2 separate regions of the Homo sapiens genome follow, and region 2 is linked to region 1. A link means that fine-mapping ties the variant in region 1 to the expression of a gene that starts in the linked region. Tissue or cell type: liver. Region 1 holds a variant in brackets; the other region holds the start of a gene. All regions are shown on one strand. Distances are from middle to middle.

Region 1 (8,105 bases):
TCTTATCCAGAATGATTAGGACCAGTAGTGTTTCAGATTTTGAGTGTTGCAGATTCTGGTATATTTACCTTATACTTACCAGTGGAGGATCACTAATCCAAAAATCTGAAATCTGAAGTGCTCCAAAATTCAAAACTTTCTGAGTGCTGACAAGACGCTCAAAGGAAAGGTTCATTGAAATGTTTCAGATTTTGGATTTTCAGAACAGGGATATTCAACCTGTACTACTTATTGAATTTTAACAATATGCTAGGCATTGCATATAACTTTATATACATGATTTCATGTAATCCTCATGGTAGTCCTAGGATGTAGGTTCTTATTATCCCCATGTTGCAGATGAGGAAACTGAAGCTTAGTATTTTAGACTGGGTTCCCTGGACACAGACTCTGAGAGATAGTTAGTTGTTGTGTGCTCTTGGTAGATCCACCTGGAAGTGAGGAAGCCAGGATTGAACTGAGGCTGAAGCTAACCTGCAATGGCCTCAACCAATCCTACTACAAGTTCTAGATCTGGGATGGTTCTTCAGGGTTGTCCAAAATTGAAGCAAGGGGGCCCCAGCCATTCACTTGCCATGGGACATCCCCAGAAGGGGACATAGCTTTCAGTAAGGCAGTTAGTTCCCTGTGGCCAAGAGCAATTCCTAGGGTAATCTATCAACAGCTGATATTCCCTGCAGCTGGGAGAAGGATGCATAGTCTTTGAGAGAATATTCTGGGTAGAGCACCACAGTATTCACTACAGTTAGGTAATAGGTCCATGATCACACAACTAGTGAAATGCCACCACTGAAACTCAAGTTCATCTGACTTTGAAGTCTATCCTGTTAACTCCAATGCCATGTTGGTCCCCATTGCTCTGTCTGGCCCAATTCCTACTATCTGATGGAATAATGGCATGTCTGATACATTTTTTTGTGGTTCAAAGAATGAAACAGCATGTTTAGACTTAAATTATTATTTAAAAAGAGGTAAATGTCACTATGCATTAGCTTTTGGTGTGAATATTTGTGTGGTTGGGCATGCAAGTCTAACAACAAAGAATGGGAAAGGGGATTCTATGTAACAGTGTGTTGGAATAAAAGCACAGAGCCCTCCTCCTTTCTGCCCTCCACACAGCTCATAGAGTCAGGTTCACAATACAAATGGTGAGATTTGTTTAGTATATGAGAGATGTGCTGGCTTAGGTGGAGGAATTTGTATCCTTGGTGATGTGCTCCCTCACTTATCCTTCAAGGTAACCTTGGCCTGCTGAAGGGTCAGCTCATTGCCCAGAGATTGCCCTGCTCTCCCTGGGTCAGTGGCAGGGCTAGCAACTGTCACTAACTAGCTGGACACTAATTAAAGTGGTAAGGAAAGATTTTAATGTGTAAAAAGGACAGATTTTAATCAGTATACAATTGCAACAGGGAAAAGAGTACATCATGAACTGAACTCAACTTCGATTTGTACAGAGGTGACTGGGCACTTTACAAGGGGAATGAGGGAATAGGAAAGGGGTTGAGCAGGGGCTCAGAGTTACAGAAGTGAAAAAATTCCAAAAATCAGGAAGGGGAAAATCAGTCTGTATGAAATCCATCTGGGTGTGCTAACTTGTGCTTATTGAAGTTAGACCCCTACCCTCTCACAGAGACTGGCAGATAGAGTCCCTTTCTTCAGGTATTCAATGGAACAACATCGAATTCTTTTGGCAGCCTTGAATTTTCTCAGACAGGTACCTTAAGGGAGGCTGGGGTCATCTTAGGAATTCAGCCTTGAGCTGTTAGAAACTGTGTGTTTCTTCAAGTCTTTATAGGTCAAGGTTGAGGCCTAGGTAAGAAGAGGGCTCAGAGGACCCTGGCTATAACTTGGTCAAGGATAGAATCATTCTTTCTTTCTTTCTTTTCTTTTCTTTCTTTTTTTTTTTTTTTTTTGGAAAGAGTTTCATTCTTGTTGCCCAGGCTGGAGTGCAATGGCGCAATCACAGCTCACTGCAACCTCCGCCTCTCAGGTTCAAGCGATTTTCCTGCCTAAGCCTACTGAATAGCTGGAGTTACAGGCGCCCGCCACCATGCCTGGCTAACTTTTTGTATTTTCAGTAGAGACAAGGTTTCACCATGTTGGCCAAGCTGATCTTGAACTCCTGGCCTCAAGTGATCCGCCCGCCTTGGCCTCCCGAAGTGCTGGGATTACAAGCATGAGCCACCACGCCCGGCCTCGAATCTTTCTTATAACCAATTAACAATAAGCAGCAGTTTAATGGAGCAAATCCCTACCCATAAGATTCCTCTGATACCAGCCTTGCTCAAAGCCAAGAGCCTCCCCCAAAGCCAAGAGCCTCCCCATACTCCACTGATGACATATCTCACATACAATCACATACATACACATACACATTCTTACATACTTACACACTCTTAAACTCACATTCTTACCCACATACACATAGACTTTCACACACTCACAGGCATATGCACACTCATACACACACACACCATATGCACACTCATACACACACACACATCCTTTGTCCCTATACTGTGTGCTTCCATTCCCAGGCCCAGCTACTCTTTTGCAAATCATAGCCTGTTCACTGCGCCAGCCCTTTGCTGGGCTTAGAGATAAATTGGCATCTGCAGACCAGCTGGTCTTGGAGGATTCCTGTCCATCTGACTATAGTGAACTGGGGTTGGGGTATATCCAGGATCTTCCAGCACCAGAGAAACCGGAGAAGGGATCCATTCTTGCAGGCACTAAAGGTGCAAGCAGGAGGAATAGAAATGTTTCCTAGAGGGGGAATCAGGACCCTTGGACAGCTCAGCTTGATGGTTCCCCAAGTACCAGTCACTCTGTGAGGTCTCCTTCCTTTACTTAATTCCCACTTCACCCAATCTCTGCCCAAGATCTTAGGCCAGTAGTTGACAAAGTTGTCAGTGGACCTGAATCCAAAGCTTCTTCCCTCCTCCATGAGACTCCTCTCTTAGGGGACTTTTTCAAATTCACCAGAAAACTTCATGCAGGAAAAAAGTTGAATGTTTCATAGGTTAACTAGTCATGCTGTAATTTACATACTATCTGGCTGCTAAGCATAATCAGACCACCTCATAATCAATCATAGTCATCCTCTCACCTTCTCTGGTTGTACATGCTCTCACCGTGGATTAAACAATTAAACAATTGTTTTGGCCTGTGAGGGTGAGAGAATTCTCTTTTTTTGGGAGGCTGGAGCAAAGAGCATGAGTTTGCCATCAGATGAGGGTTTGTGTTCCAGCTGTTCCGTATGTGAGTGGTGAAACCTTCACTCAGGGGTATCCTCTCGGCACCTCTGCAAAATGGCAGGGAGGTGATTGGGATTGCATTGAAAGCACCCATCAGAGTTCCTGGCTCATAAGAAATGACCAATGTATTACAATTATTAGAATTTCTTGCTTACAATTATTAGAATTTCTTGCTTACACTTTTTGATTGTACTATGTCAGCAATGTACTGAGTAACCGGCAATGGGTAATTGCTGAGCAATGTGACCCAGAGATCAATATTTCATCAGAAAAACTGTTATTCTCCTTGGCGGCCTTCCCTCAAAGTCCCATTGCATCA[A/G]TGATCACTTTTTTCCTGAGTGTTGTGTTTATCTTTGTACCTGGGAAGGAGCGGGAGTGGGCTTTGGCTCCTGGGCCCAGTGGTGTTGCGGTGCCTGAATGGCATGCACTGTGATACAGCACCAGAAGGTGCCCCACGCCCGGGGAGGCAGCTGGGTCATTTTCTGAGCCATCAAGCTGCCAGTGCTTGTTTGCCGCCTCCTCTGTTTTGTACCAACTCTTCGAGTGACCCTTTTGACCCATCCTGTGCCTGTAACTTCAGATCCGAGACAGCCAGAAAGCTTCTTTTCATTTGTCCCAGTTTATCGCTATCCAATATTTGTGGTGAATTGAGGGGAAAAGGCCACGTGAAGAATGTTTACAGTGGGAAATGGAAAGAAGATACTGTCTTCTGCCTGGGCACACTCAGCAGCTTGGGCAAGTCAGGCATTGGGCGGGATGGATTGAATTGCATTACCCATTTGCTGAGCGTGAGAAGTAGGTCCTGAAACGTCCTCCACAGTCAGTCCCAGGGTAAGTGCCTGATCTCTCCCTCCTGGGGAGGCAAGGGGAGCCAGGGTCAGGGTGGAAGCTGAGGACGAAAGCCACGCAAGGAGGGAAGGAGGAGGCAGAGTTCTTTGTTTCTCTCCTTCAGGCTTGAACAACTTGTCATCTTTCTGGGAGACCTCGGTGATTCTCAGCATGCTCCCAGCCAAGAACAACTTGACTGGAGATCAGGGCTTCAGCTGCATCATTTTTCTCCTCTCATTCACCTTCAGATCGTGACACCTTTTCAGTAACCTAGAAAACAAATATCCAAGAAATCCGAATGTCACTGCTTAGGCATTATAAACAGCTTTAGAACGTACCTTTCTCCCTTAAATGACTGCTTGTACCACCAAAGATGCCGTGATGAAAACACATACTACATATTTGCATCTTCATTGTTCTGGTCATAAATTTCCAGCACTGCTCTGTGGTCCTGAATGCAGAACATCTTTGTTAGCACAGAGTAGGAATTTAAATGCATCTGGGAAACAAAATCAGTCAATAACAATGTTCTTCTACATCAGATGGAGCTTATAAATGTGATTAAAATACCAACCTATAAAAACAATGTGCATATAAATCCTTACAATAAGAGCACTTTCTAGTGATAGTTTTCCAGGATTTTTCATTGTCTCCTCAATTTCTACAAGTGGACAAAGCTTAAGAGAATGATTTCTAGATCTTTATCTTATAATGCAATTTTTTATCAAATACCAGAACAATCATCAGCCAGGTAGAAGGCATTCTTGGGACGGACCATAAACACAAAGAGGAAATTGGAAATAAATTGATTTTTGCAGTTCACTTACTGCTTTGTCATATAAAATCCTGGGACTAGATGGGGCCAAAACTCTTTGTCTACTACTAGGAATGATTGTATTTCTAAGTATACAGCAGCAACTGGTCAAAAAATCTATGGGTATCAAGTCTGTCTTATACAGACACAATTAATTGCAAGGTTGGAATACAAGACACCAGGCAGCTTCACTTCTGTGTAACCAAATCAATTTTACTTCTGTACTGAAACATCTAAGTGTGGTTACTAAACATAGGTTATAATAAAAAGAGGAAGAAAACTATGGTAGTCCAGCAAACTTTTACTCATTCAGGAAAAAAAAAAGATATGAGTTCTAAAGTAACAATGAAAAAAAATTTCTTCTTTAAAATATGCCTCTCATATTATTGCCTGCTCTTCCAAATGAGACCGTTTTTCCCTCCTTTATCCCTTGGGCTCCTGGAAATATTAATAGTTATTGAGGAGAAACTTTTACTCCAAATAATATTGTAGCTGAGACCCAATCATAAAGAATTTTGCAACTGTAGGCTCACTTTGAGCTTTATCTTACTCAGTTGTGTTGGTCTTGCCTCTTGGAGCCTAAATACATAGAGCAAAGTACAGGTGATCGAAAATGTTCTCCAACAGACCCTGTTCCAGGAATCTGTCCTGCGAATCCCTCCAGTCAGCAGGTGTTTGTGTGAGCAAGAATGAAGAAAACAAATAAGAGTTAACAGCTGGTTGGGCACGGTGGCTCACACCTGTAATCCCAGCACTTTGGGAGGTCGAGGTGGGTGGATCACCTGAGGTCAGGAGTTTGAGACCAGCCTGGCCAACATGGAGAAACCCCATCTCTACTAAAAATACAAAAGTTCACTCGGTGTGGTGGTGCACGGCTGTAATCCCAGCTATTCGGGAGGCTGAGGCAGGAGAATCGCTTGAACCTGGGAGGCAGAGATTGCAGTGAGCCAAGATCACACCATTGCACTTCAGCCTGGGTGAGAGAGTGAGACTCTGTCTCAAAAAAAAAAAAAAAAAAAAAAAAAAAAAGTTAACAGCCAGCATTTATTAAGCACGCATCATGCACTGTGCACCAGTAGGGTAATAGGGTTCTGGGCTTTAGATATAGTATCTTATGCAATGCCCACAAAACCCAAGAATAGTATTCTTCCTCTGATTTTATGGATGAGGTAAAACAATGTATAAAGGGTTGAACAGCCAGTAACTGGCAGCATTTCAGAATTCAGAATTGTTCCCTTAACTAGCAGAAGCTTTCACATTGATTAATGCATTCAACCCTCACAATAACCCAACTACAAAGTATTACTGTTCTTCCCACCTTTTCCATTGGAGTAATTCAGACAAAGGTAACTTTCTCAAGGTCACACTTATAGGGGATAGAGCGAGAATCTGCACCCTTTCAAACCTATATTCTTTCTACCATCCCACATTGCCTCAACCAAGCATTTGGTGTGCATATTTTTAGAGAGTCAGTGCCCAACTTTGTATTTAAAAGACAAATATAAGAGAAAAGCATTCACAGCACCAAGAGATATAATTTTAAGGTTCTGCCCTTTTACAGAAAGGAAAGGGTAGATGAATCATTGTGTTGGCAAGGAGAATAGGCTTTAATTTGAAAAGAAGACAGTGCAGGAAAGGGAGTCTGTCTCTGTACCTGAGGTACGGAAGGGTATACCCAGACTGCTAGGAGGGGAAGGAATTTGTATCAAGTACAGTGATACTTGATATAAATTCCTGCTAGCAATAGAAAACTCCAGAACAGTGACTTGAATAGGAGTTAATTTTTATCACATAACAAGAAAGCTAGTGGTGAAGGTTTCAGGTGTTGACTCAGCTGCTCAAAGATGCCATCAGAACCGAGCTCCTTCCCCTCCCATCCCTCCACCCATACCCTATTGGCCTTCTCCTCATGTGAGCCGGAAGACATCACATCCATCCTAAAGTCAGGAACCACAGTGGAGAGGCTGCATCAATCACAGTGGTTCCGTATCAGCAGAAAAGCAAAAGCTTTCTCAGACCCCTCCAGTCCCCAGCAGACTTCCACTTAGGTGTCGTCCGTCAGGATTGTGTACCACGGCCTCCCCAGCGGACGAGGAGGCTGGAAGAGCAAGTACCTACCTGGACACCTTGCCAACCCAGCAGAACTGCCTCCTCGTATGGATGGGGTGGTGTGGGAAGAAAGAAAGAGAGTAAGCCTTGGTGTCGGAGGCTAGTGAGGAGAGGACACAAATGTGCTAGGGCAGCAGGGCTGTACTTGGGAGAAGGAAGAGGACACGGATGAGGCAGGAGTGGAATGTCATCCTGCCCATTGAATTTGTGATTATATTTAAGTGGCCCCAGAGGATCACACCAGTACCTACCCCTTCCTTCATCCTGTTCTTTACTCTATTCTTTCTGCCCTACCCAGACCAATAGCCCTTTGTGCTAAGTAACGTTGATAAGAATTAGATCATCTGACTCACTATTTTGTTTTGCTTTTTTAGTCCTTAGCAAATATGTATTCAATAAATGATTGTTTAATTAATCAATGAAGGAGGAGATGAAGAAATTCTAGGTTGATATCAGCTGGTGAGGGCCTTTGACTGCTGTGGCCAGAAGTGTTCACTGCTTCCAAGGAGAAACTACTCAGGAGCACAGGGAGTTTCGACACCAGAATCTACCTGTACAAATGCCAGCAAAAAGGTCCAACCTCAGACAAGAGGAATCTGAGGAGGTTGATGACTCTTCAGTTTTGAGTCTCGCTGGCCTTGTTGGTGTATCCTGTGATTACAGCTCCATGGCTTCCTTCTTTGTCTTTGCAGAGCCAGCTCTCCCAGGCGCTGAACGGACTGTCAGACAGGGCCAAAGAAGCCAAGGAGTTTCTGGTACAGCTGCGCAACATGGTCCAGCAGATCCAGGTATGGGTGTTACCTGGGACGCAAGGAAACCCGCCGGTTAATACGTAACTGTGTGGCGGGAGAGTTTCCTTCTCCTCTTTTATTTTTATGTGTCGTGGGAAAATTCCTATTTTGTGGTTGTTGTTGTTCTTTACATACAAACACATAGAGATCAACTTCAAACATACCCCTTCTTGAGGTAGTTACTTTTTGCCAACAAGCCGGAAACACAGCCTGATTTTCCAACTGGTTCCTGTCTTCCACACTGAGGTCCTAATTCTCTACTACTGAATATTCAGAAAGAGGCCTATTTTTTTGTAAACTCAGGGT
Region 2 (8,105 bases), 66 kb before region 1:
TCTTGATTTGGGCCTTCCCAGCCTCCAGAACCATGAGCCAATATATTTCTGTTTCTTATAAATTATCCAGTCTGTGGTATTCTGTTATAGCAGCAAAAACGGACTATGACAGGGTGACTTCTTTCAGTTTTAGTAGGCTGTAGAATTTGTTTCACATTATTTTCACCTGCAAGGTTGTAGAAAGCAGTCCAATGCCAATCTGATTCTTTTTTCTTTACAATTAAGTTGTTCTTTCTTTCTGGGAGCTTGTAAAATGATCTTTTTTTTTTCTTCTGAGTTAAGAATTGTGTCTGTATATAACTGGGTCTTTTTTCATTAATGTCATCTATAATTCTAAAATCCTTTCAATCTGTAATTTTATATATTTTTTTGGTTCAGAGAAATGTTTTCCAACTATGGTTTTCCCTCCACCTGTGTTATTTCCTCATTCTGAGATTCCTATTATTCACAAGTTAGGTCTTCTGGATTTATCCTCTAGCTCTCTTACCTCCATATAGGATTCATTAAATCTTCATTTTCTCCGATTCTCCAGTCTACCCTTCCCAAAGCATCAGTAATATATTACTTACAATAAGAAATACTACAGAATTTGAATATGGCCATCTTCCAGTAGTACTAAATGGGAAAAAGCTCATAATTCACTATAATAATCAAATAATTTAAATTACCAAAGGATATCAACAATAAATGTTATTAAAGAATAGTACAAAATTATAAGTATAAAATTGAATATTAGTAGACTAAATGGGGTAAATTATTCCATAAAAGAAGTTTCTTCAGAATTTCTATTGAGAATAGAAACATCACATTTATCACTTTTCAAGTGATGTACTTTTACAAACCACATGCAGCAAGACCCTTATTCAAATACCTTAATAAAATATTTTTATATACATGTCAGATAATCTTAAAATGTTAGAGCCTAAGATCAGCTCCTTTCACTGATTTCCACCCCCCTCCCACAACTAAGGATAGACTACTCTAGGAGAGAATGTGGAAAGAAAAACCTTTCTTCTCTGTGTTCATTCTTTAGACTCACAGAGACTGTTTTGTTAATAATCAAGCATTGTAGTCAAAAGCAAATAGGAAAGCAACTCAATTTTTCATTGAAAAACATTTATCAAAAAAAGAAAAACATTTATCTTTTTTTAAAAATGCAAAAGCTGTTGTTGCACTTTAAATGTAATTGCTCTCATTGCTAAAGAACATAATTTGGGTGAATAGTAAGTTTCAAAGGATAATTAGGCACTTTACACAAAAGAGAACATCTGCAATCATCCCAGGAATGATGAAATTACAGGGCTATCAATCCTTGTGCTTCAGGGCATGGACTGATCACCAGCTGGAAGACAGAAGATATCCCCTCAATAGTATAATATTTCTATAATATTACCAATTACATTTCAATTTTTATTCCCTTTTAAACATAAGTCATTGGGGGGCTATAAAGCACATTATGGCCAAACAGTGCAACATGAGGGGAAAATCTTCAAAGGCCTTCAAGAATATTTTAAAGAAATGGATTCAAAGAAAAATAGTAAACTTTTGGCTGGGAGCGCTGGCTCATGCGTGTAATCCCAGCACTTCGGGAGGCTGAGGCAGGTGGATCACTTGAGGTCAGGAGTTTGAGACCAGTCTGGCCAACATAGTGAAACCCTGTCTCTACTAAAAAAAAAAAATGTAAAAATTAGCCAGGCATGGTGGTGCACACCTGTAGTCCCAACTACTCAGGAGGCTGAGGCACGAGAAACACTTAAACCTGGGAGGTGGAGGTTGCAGTGGGCCAAGATTGTGCCACTGCACTCCAGCCTGGGGAACACAGCAAGACTCCAGTCTCAAAAAAAAAAAAGGAAAAAAAAAGTAAACTTTCAGAGAAGGTGAGCAGAATATCATAGAAGTTAACAAAGAACATTTTGGGTACTTATCACATTCAGAGCTTGAAGAGAGTAGAACTCAGCACTTGTTGAATGAATGAATGAATGAATGAATGAACAAAGGAACAAACTTATATGTGTCCGGGTTCCAATCCCAGCCTCACCATATTTGACCTTGAGTACTTAAGTGTCTTTGCTTATCTTCAGTTTATTTATCTGTAAAATGGGAATAATTGTGCCTACCTCTTCTTGTAATTACAGGGATTTAACCAAGTAATGTATACAAATAAATAAATCCCCTGTTTGGAACAGGGTGAACTCTCAACAAATGAGTCATTTTAAGAGCTCTCCTAGGATTGACTGATTTAGCTAATTCCTAAACAAACAGATCTAACAATGAAATCATCTCAAGCGACTTCATAATAGACCAAATCTTTCTATATTGACTATATTATAAACCTGTGTTGTTCTTTTTGCGAACCCAACACTGCATTACACCATGAGACATCCTCTAAAATTCTTCTTTACTTTGAACTAAGCATAAACTTTCTGCTAATAAGATCTCTTAGATGATATACTATTATAAGCAGAGTTCAAACTCATACAAAGTGTAACAGCTGCTCACCTTGCTGGTCCAAGATATTGTGACTTGTGGTCAAATGCATACAAAAGCCATAAAAGGACACTCCTTTCTAATATTTTCTCAATAATTAACTTTCATTACAATTCAATTAATACTATATTGAATATAATTATTAGTAATTTCTCTTGGGACCTATAAATTAAGTGTATCCTGCAAGTGCAGCTAATGTCCCAACCATACCTGAAGAAATTTTATCTATGTCTGTAAACAGAGTGCATATACCTTTGGATGCTCTGGTCTCAACTAGTTGAAAGCCAGCTTAAAAATAAATCACGTCACATTTATGATTAACATGGCTTTAAATAACAATGGGGACTTTATTCCCCCACACAATGATCAACTACTGTTCTCACTGCAACTAAAGATGTTGAAAAGATAACCTAGTTTATTGGACAATTTCTACAAGGGCAGTGTAATAAAATGTCCATTTTTTTTCTGGACAATAAAGTACTTTTAAATTATCAACATAGCTGCATATAATCAAGTTATCTCCTGTCTGGAAGGTGGAAAATTGGAATATTTCTAGAACTTGCAAAGAGTTTTTGTCCTTTACTTCATGAATCATTCAGCAAAAGCCGGCTATGTACTATTTCAAATGTTACTACCTCAGAATGTCACTTGACTCAAAGATTTTCCTTTCCTTTTCTTCTTCCTCCCTCCCTTTCTTCCCTTCCTTCCGCCTTTCCTTTCCCCCCCCCTTCCTTCCTCCCTCTCTCCCTCTTTCCCTTCTTCCCTCCCTCCCTCCCTCCTTGTACAGGGACTAACACTAGAATCACCGCCTCACCATGCCCCTCGTTGGAAGAAACAGAAAGGCACACGATGCTGTAAGCTATGGCAGATGCCCAGGGCACGTGGGGTTGAATAATGCTGTTTGGAGTGAAACACTGAGACTCCGCAGTCACACAGTGATTCATTTACAGAGCTTTACTAAACTACGGGCACTCAGAAATAGACAAACTGTTCTTGCCTCAACCGAACCAAAGGCCCAGCGGGCCTCGAAAAAGCTCAGCCAGGTGCTTTGGGAGGCCGCGAGGAGGAAGAAGGATCCGTGGAAGGAAGCACGTTCACACCACGGCACTGAGGCCTCTGGGCCGAGCTATAATTTAAAGCATGAAACGAAGGGGTCATAGATTCTGACTAATGCTGACCATTTCCATCGGTTACCCAGTTGAATCTCATGTCGACACTAGGAAATCGACTTTATACATGCTCTTTAGGAAACGAGGGACGCAGGATGAAAGAAGCCAAGAGTGTCGCCAGGGCTTGCGCCAGCGCCGTCAGACTCCCGGGATGGGGGAGCTCCAGGGCACGGCGTCAGCGGATTCACGGAGAAGGAGAAAAGCCCCACTGCCGTGCAGAAGCCTAGGCCCGGGTGAGACGCCTGCGAAGGCTGCCAGCAGCGGAAGAGAAGGGGCGTCCTCCGTGCTGCGCAGCACTCGCCCGCGGTAGGTGGGCGCGGAGCTCAGAGCTGGGAGCCAAACGCAAACGCTGGCGAGAAGCCCCAGCCCCCTCCGGCAGCCCACTCGCTGCGGGGAGGGGTTTCTCACGCCCCCAGCTCCTGGGAGACTGCACCGGAGGTCGGAAGTAAGCCGGGCGAGGATGAATCATCCCGCCTAACTCCTCCTTCCCGGTCCCCTAGCCTCCGCACGCCGGCCCCCTTCAGAGATCTTGCAGCCGCGAGCGAAGACTGCCCTATCCTCAGACTCTACCGAACCCCCTGTGGCCTGCGGAGACGAGGAGACGGACGGGTCTGGTGGCCAATGAGAGCTTCGATCTCTTGCCCCCCGCCCAATGGGCCGCTGCTCATGGGCCGGGGCGGGACTAGGAGGGCAGGTAGGGGCGGTCCGGGCTGGCGCGCGGCGCGGCGGCTACGCGGCTGCGGCTCACAGAGCTAGCGCCTCTCTGGGTGTCCGTGCCAGTGCTGCGCGGGAAGGCACCACCACCACAGCCGCCGCCGCTGGCCAGGGTGCTGGACAAGACGGGCCCGTCGGCCACCTCGCCAGCTCAGGCACCCGCTGCAGCCGTCGCTGTCTCCTCCCAGACCGGTCCCCATGGAGGAGATGGAAGAGGAGTTGAAATGCCCCGTGTGCGGCTCCTTCTATCGGGAGCCCATCATCCTGCCCTGCTCTCACAATTTGTGTCAGGCGTGCGCCCGCAACATCCTGGTGCAGACCCCAGAGTCTGAATCCCCCCAGAGCCATCGGGCCGCGGGCTCCGGGGTCTCCGACTATGACTATCTGGACCTGGACAAGATGAGCCTATACAGCGAGGCGGACAGCGGCTATGGCTCCTACGGGGGGTTCGCCAGCGCCCCCACTACCCCGTGCCAGAAGTCCCCCAACGGCGTCCGCGTGTTTCCCCCGGCTATGCCGCCACCGGCCACCCACTTGTCACCGGCCCTGGCCCCGGTGCCCCGCAACTCCTGTATCACCTGCCCCCAGTGTCACCGCAGCCTCATCCTGGATGACCGGGGGCTCCGCGGCTTCCCCAAGAATCGCGTACTGGAAGGGGTAATTGACCGCTACCAGCAGAGCAAAGCCGCGGCCCTCAAGTGCCAGCTCTGCGAGAAGGCGCCCAAGGAAGCCACCGTCATGTGCGAACAGTGCGATGTCTTCTACTGCGATCCGTGCCGCCTGCGCTGCCACCCGCCCCGGGGGCCCCTAGCCAAGCACCGCCTGGTGCCCCCGGCCCAGGGTCGTGTGAGCCGGAGGCTGAGCCCACGCAAGGTCTCCACCTGCACAGACCACGAGCTGGAGAACCACAGCATGTACTGCGTGCAATGCAAGATGCCCGTGTGCTACCAGTGCTTGGAGGAGGGCAAACACTCCAGCCACGAAGTCAAGGCTCTGGGGGCCATGTGGAAACTACATAAGGTGAGTCCTAAGAAAACCCACTCCTAACTCCCTGCGTCTCCGATCATCCGGTTTTGCAGCAGACGGTCCCCGTCTCTTGCGCACAGCGCATCCCAGTGGGGGCGCAATGCAGGTGCCTTCGATGTTTACCTCCCTGGTCTGGTGCATTGCAGGAGGCATGGGGGAATCTTAACCGGCGCACGGGGGAGTTGAATGCCCCCACAGAGTTGTTGCGGGGATGCCTTAGAGCGGGTCTCTCGGGGCGCGCTGCCTGCGAGCGGGACTCAGGGCGCCCCCTTTCCGCGGCGGGTCTGCAGCCAGTGGCCGCGGCCAGTGTGTGGGAAAGCACTGCATAGCTGGGTAGAGCCGCGCCAGTGCCCAGGGCCGCTAGGCACGCTCGAGGGCAGGGCGGGCTGCGAACCCTCGGGGAGGGACTGGGATGGGGGCGGTGGGGTCGCGCGGACGGCGGGAGTCTGTCGCTGCTGGATAGGCGGACCTGGTGAGGCACGGCGGAGGGTCGGGGAGACGCCGCAGGCGGAATACTGATGAGCCCGGCTCTGGGCCAGACCTGGCTCTCGAGCTGGAGAGAACGCGGGGTCCTGGTGCCACGTGCTCAAAAGACAGAGCGGAGAGGGCAGCCAGCGGTCGCCATGGCAACGCGACGTGCAGGCTTGGGCCTGAACCCTTCCGGAGTTGGGACCTGAGACTAGAGTGTCAGGACCGGAGTTTGCGCAGTCGCGGCCTGGAAGCCAGACAGGTGCATCTCCTAGGGAAACCTTCTCCTCCCAACTATACACACACCCACTTCTCCGGAATTCAAGCCCTTTCCTCTTTCAGTAGTTATATGTGCAAACTTTGGGACACCTGTTACCAGATTTATCTTTCCAGTCTCTTTTGATGATATTTCCACCATGGCTAGACACGAAGAGGCTTTAGCAACATATTCTGTCGTGCCACTCCTCTGCTCAAAACCCTCCAATTTTTCCCACGCTTCTCAGCCTGTCCTACATGACCTCTTCCATTTTGGCCCCTTCGACCTCATTGCCTCCCACTTACTCCCTCTGCTCCAGCCACACTGCTTCTTACTGTTCCTCAAACGACGCCAGGCACCTCCCTACTCCAGGGCCTTTGCATTTGGTGTTCATTCAGCCTGAAGCTCTCTTCCCCAGTTACCTGAGATCCGAATGGGTCACTTACCTGCATCCTTCAGCTCTTTGCTCAGGTATCATCTTTGCAGCGCCACCCACCCAGACACCCGCTAGTTCCCTCTCAGCTTTATTTTCCTCAGTAGTATTTATCCCTGTGTGGCATGCTATATATTTTAATTATGTTATTTTTTGTATTTATCTATTGCTCCCTGTACACACACAGACATAAACGAAATAAGCCTCATGAGGAAGAAGATCCTTATAATATGCCCACACTGCTTAGAAGGAAGGGAGCAACTCTTGAGGAGATGTGCATGAATTTGCTTTTCATTTTTTAAATGATCCATTTAGTTGGGGCTGTGGAGTGCAGGGCAGGGATTCAGGATGGTTGGAAGGAGCTTTTCTTTACATCACTGAGTTGCATACCCAAGGATGAGATGGAGCAGTGAAGATAGTGTCCAGGCCTCAGCTGTGGCCTTGCTCAGAGTCTCCCAGAATTCCTTGGAGACTAGAAAGGGTAGCTTTTGCAAGTGGCCAACTGTGGAGTTAAGGCTGGAACATTGATATTTTGTTTACAGCAAGAAAAAAATGTCATTAATTTTCAGCAATCAGTGAAAGTTTTCTCAACTCCTTAACCCGGTTGAATGTGATCCATGTTTACAGTCATTCTATTCTCACATATAACCTATTAAATCATATTAGTACTGATGGGGATTTCATTTAGCACAAATTGAAGCCTAACTGGGCACACACCACTGTTTTCAGAACAGTCGAATTTAAATTTTTGAAAATGACATTTAATTTTGAAAGTTTTCAAAACTTGAGTTCACAGCTAGTTTTTTATTCATATTTTGATTTCACTTTTAAACTGCTAATTATAGTCCATGTTGAATTGCCCTACAAAGTATCCTTGGAACTAAAAAATTAATCACTCTGTCAGGAAAAAGAATTTAGAGCCACAAGGTAATTAGGATGGGTAAACCACAACATTATTATTTTTTTTATGACAAGCCTATCCTTGATCTATTAAGACCAAAAGAAACCTTTAAATCTCTGTCAAGCCCCATGTCAATTTGAAATGTTAAATCATTTGTTTTATTGGCAATAGAAATTATGAGTAGACAGACACTGGTGCTGCCTGGGTTGAGATTTAGATATCTACCTGCCACAAAAGAATGTTAAAACCCTTGAAACATGACATAAGTAGGCTAGAAGACCATTTATTCTCTGATCTTTTGCACATTTTTTCCAAAACAGTAAGGACACATAATTTTTGTTCAGTCAATATGAGGATTACTAAACTGCCAAGAAAAAAAATAAGACAGAAGGATGACAGATTTTAACATTCACTTGTCATCTGTTAGATGAACAACAAACATTACTCCCCCACCTTATTTACTTAATAAGGAAGTTAATGTGTTAGCAGCCAGTTTTCTCATATAGTTTATGTTTTAGTTAATGGTACTTCTATCTCCACAAAAGCCCATGGGCCAGAATTTCTATGCCCTGCAAAAATAGGACAGCAAAGAACTATACTAACTAGGTTTCCAAAATTGGGCAGTTAGTTATCAACACAGGTTATTACTAG

Which allele goes with the higher level. Positions count from the first base shown, and alleles are read on the strand shown. Sizes are in standard deviations (SD) of each study's normalised expression.
In carriers of allele A in region 1, the expression in liver of the gene that starts at base 4,403 in region 2 tends to be lower than with G alone (large effect, 1.1 SD a copy in GTEx).

Evidence for each region. PIP is the estimated chance that this variant, and not a neighbour inherited with it, causes the effect.
Region 2: TRIM9 starts here. The variant in region 1 is fine-mapped to the expression of TRIM9 in liver (GTEx, PIP 0.92).

Annotation. Positions count from the first base shown.
Region 1 is chr14:51,024,956-51,033,060 of GRCh38, reverse strand. TRIM9 (tripartite motif containing 9) reads left to right here. Exons shown (of 13, transcript NM_001387360.1): 2 at 7,701-7,796. Among named protein-coding and RNA genes, the nearest start is that of TRIM9, 66 kb to the left of the region's middle. RefSeq lists an enhancer at 3,471-4,670. The variant A/G (reference allele first, on the strand shown) is at 3,577.
Region 2 is chr14:51,091,403-51,099,507 of GRCh38, reverse strand. It overlaps TRIM9 (tripartite motif containing 9), which reads left to right and starts at 4,403. Exons shown (of 13, transcript NM_001387360.1): 1 at 4,403-5,390. The coding sequence starts at 4,569. RefSeq lists a silencer at 4,342-4,411.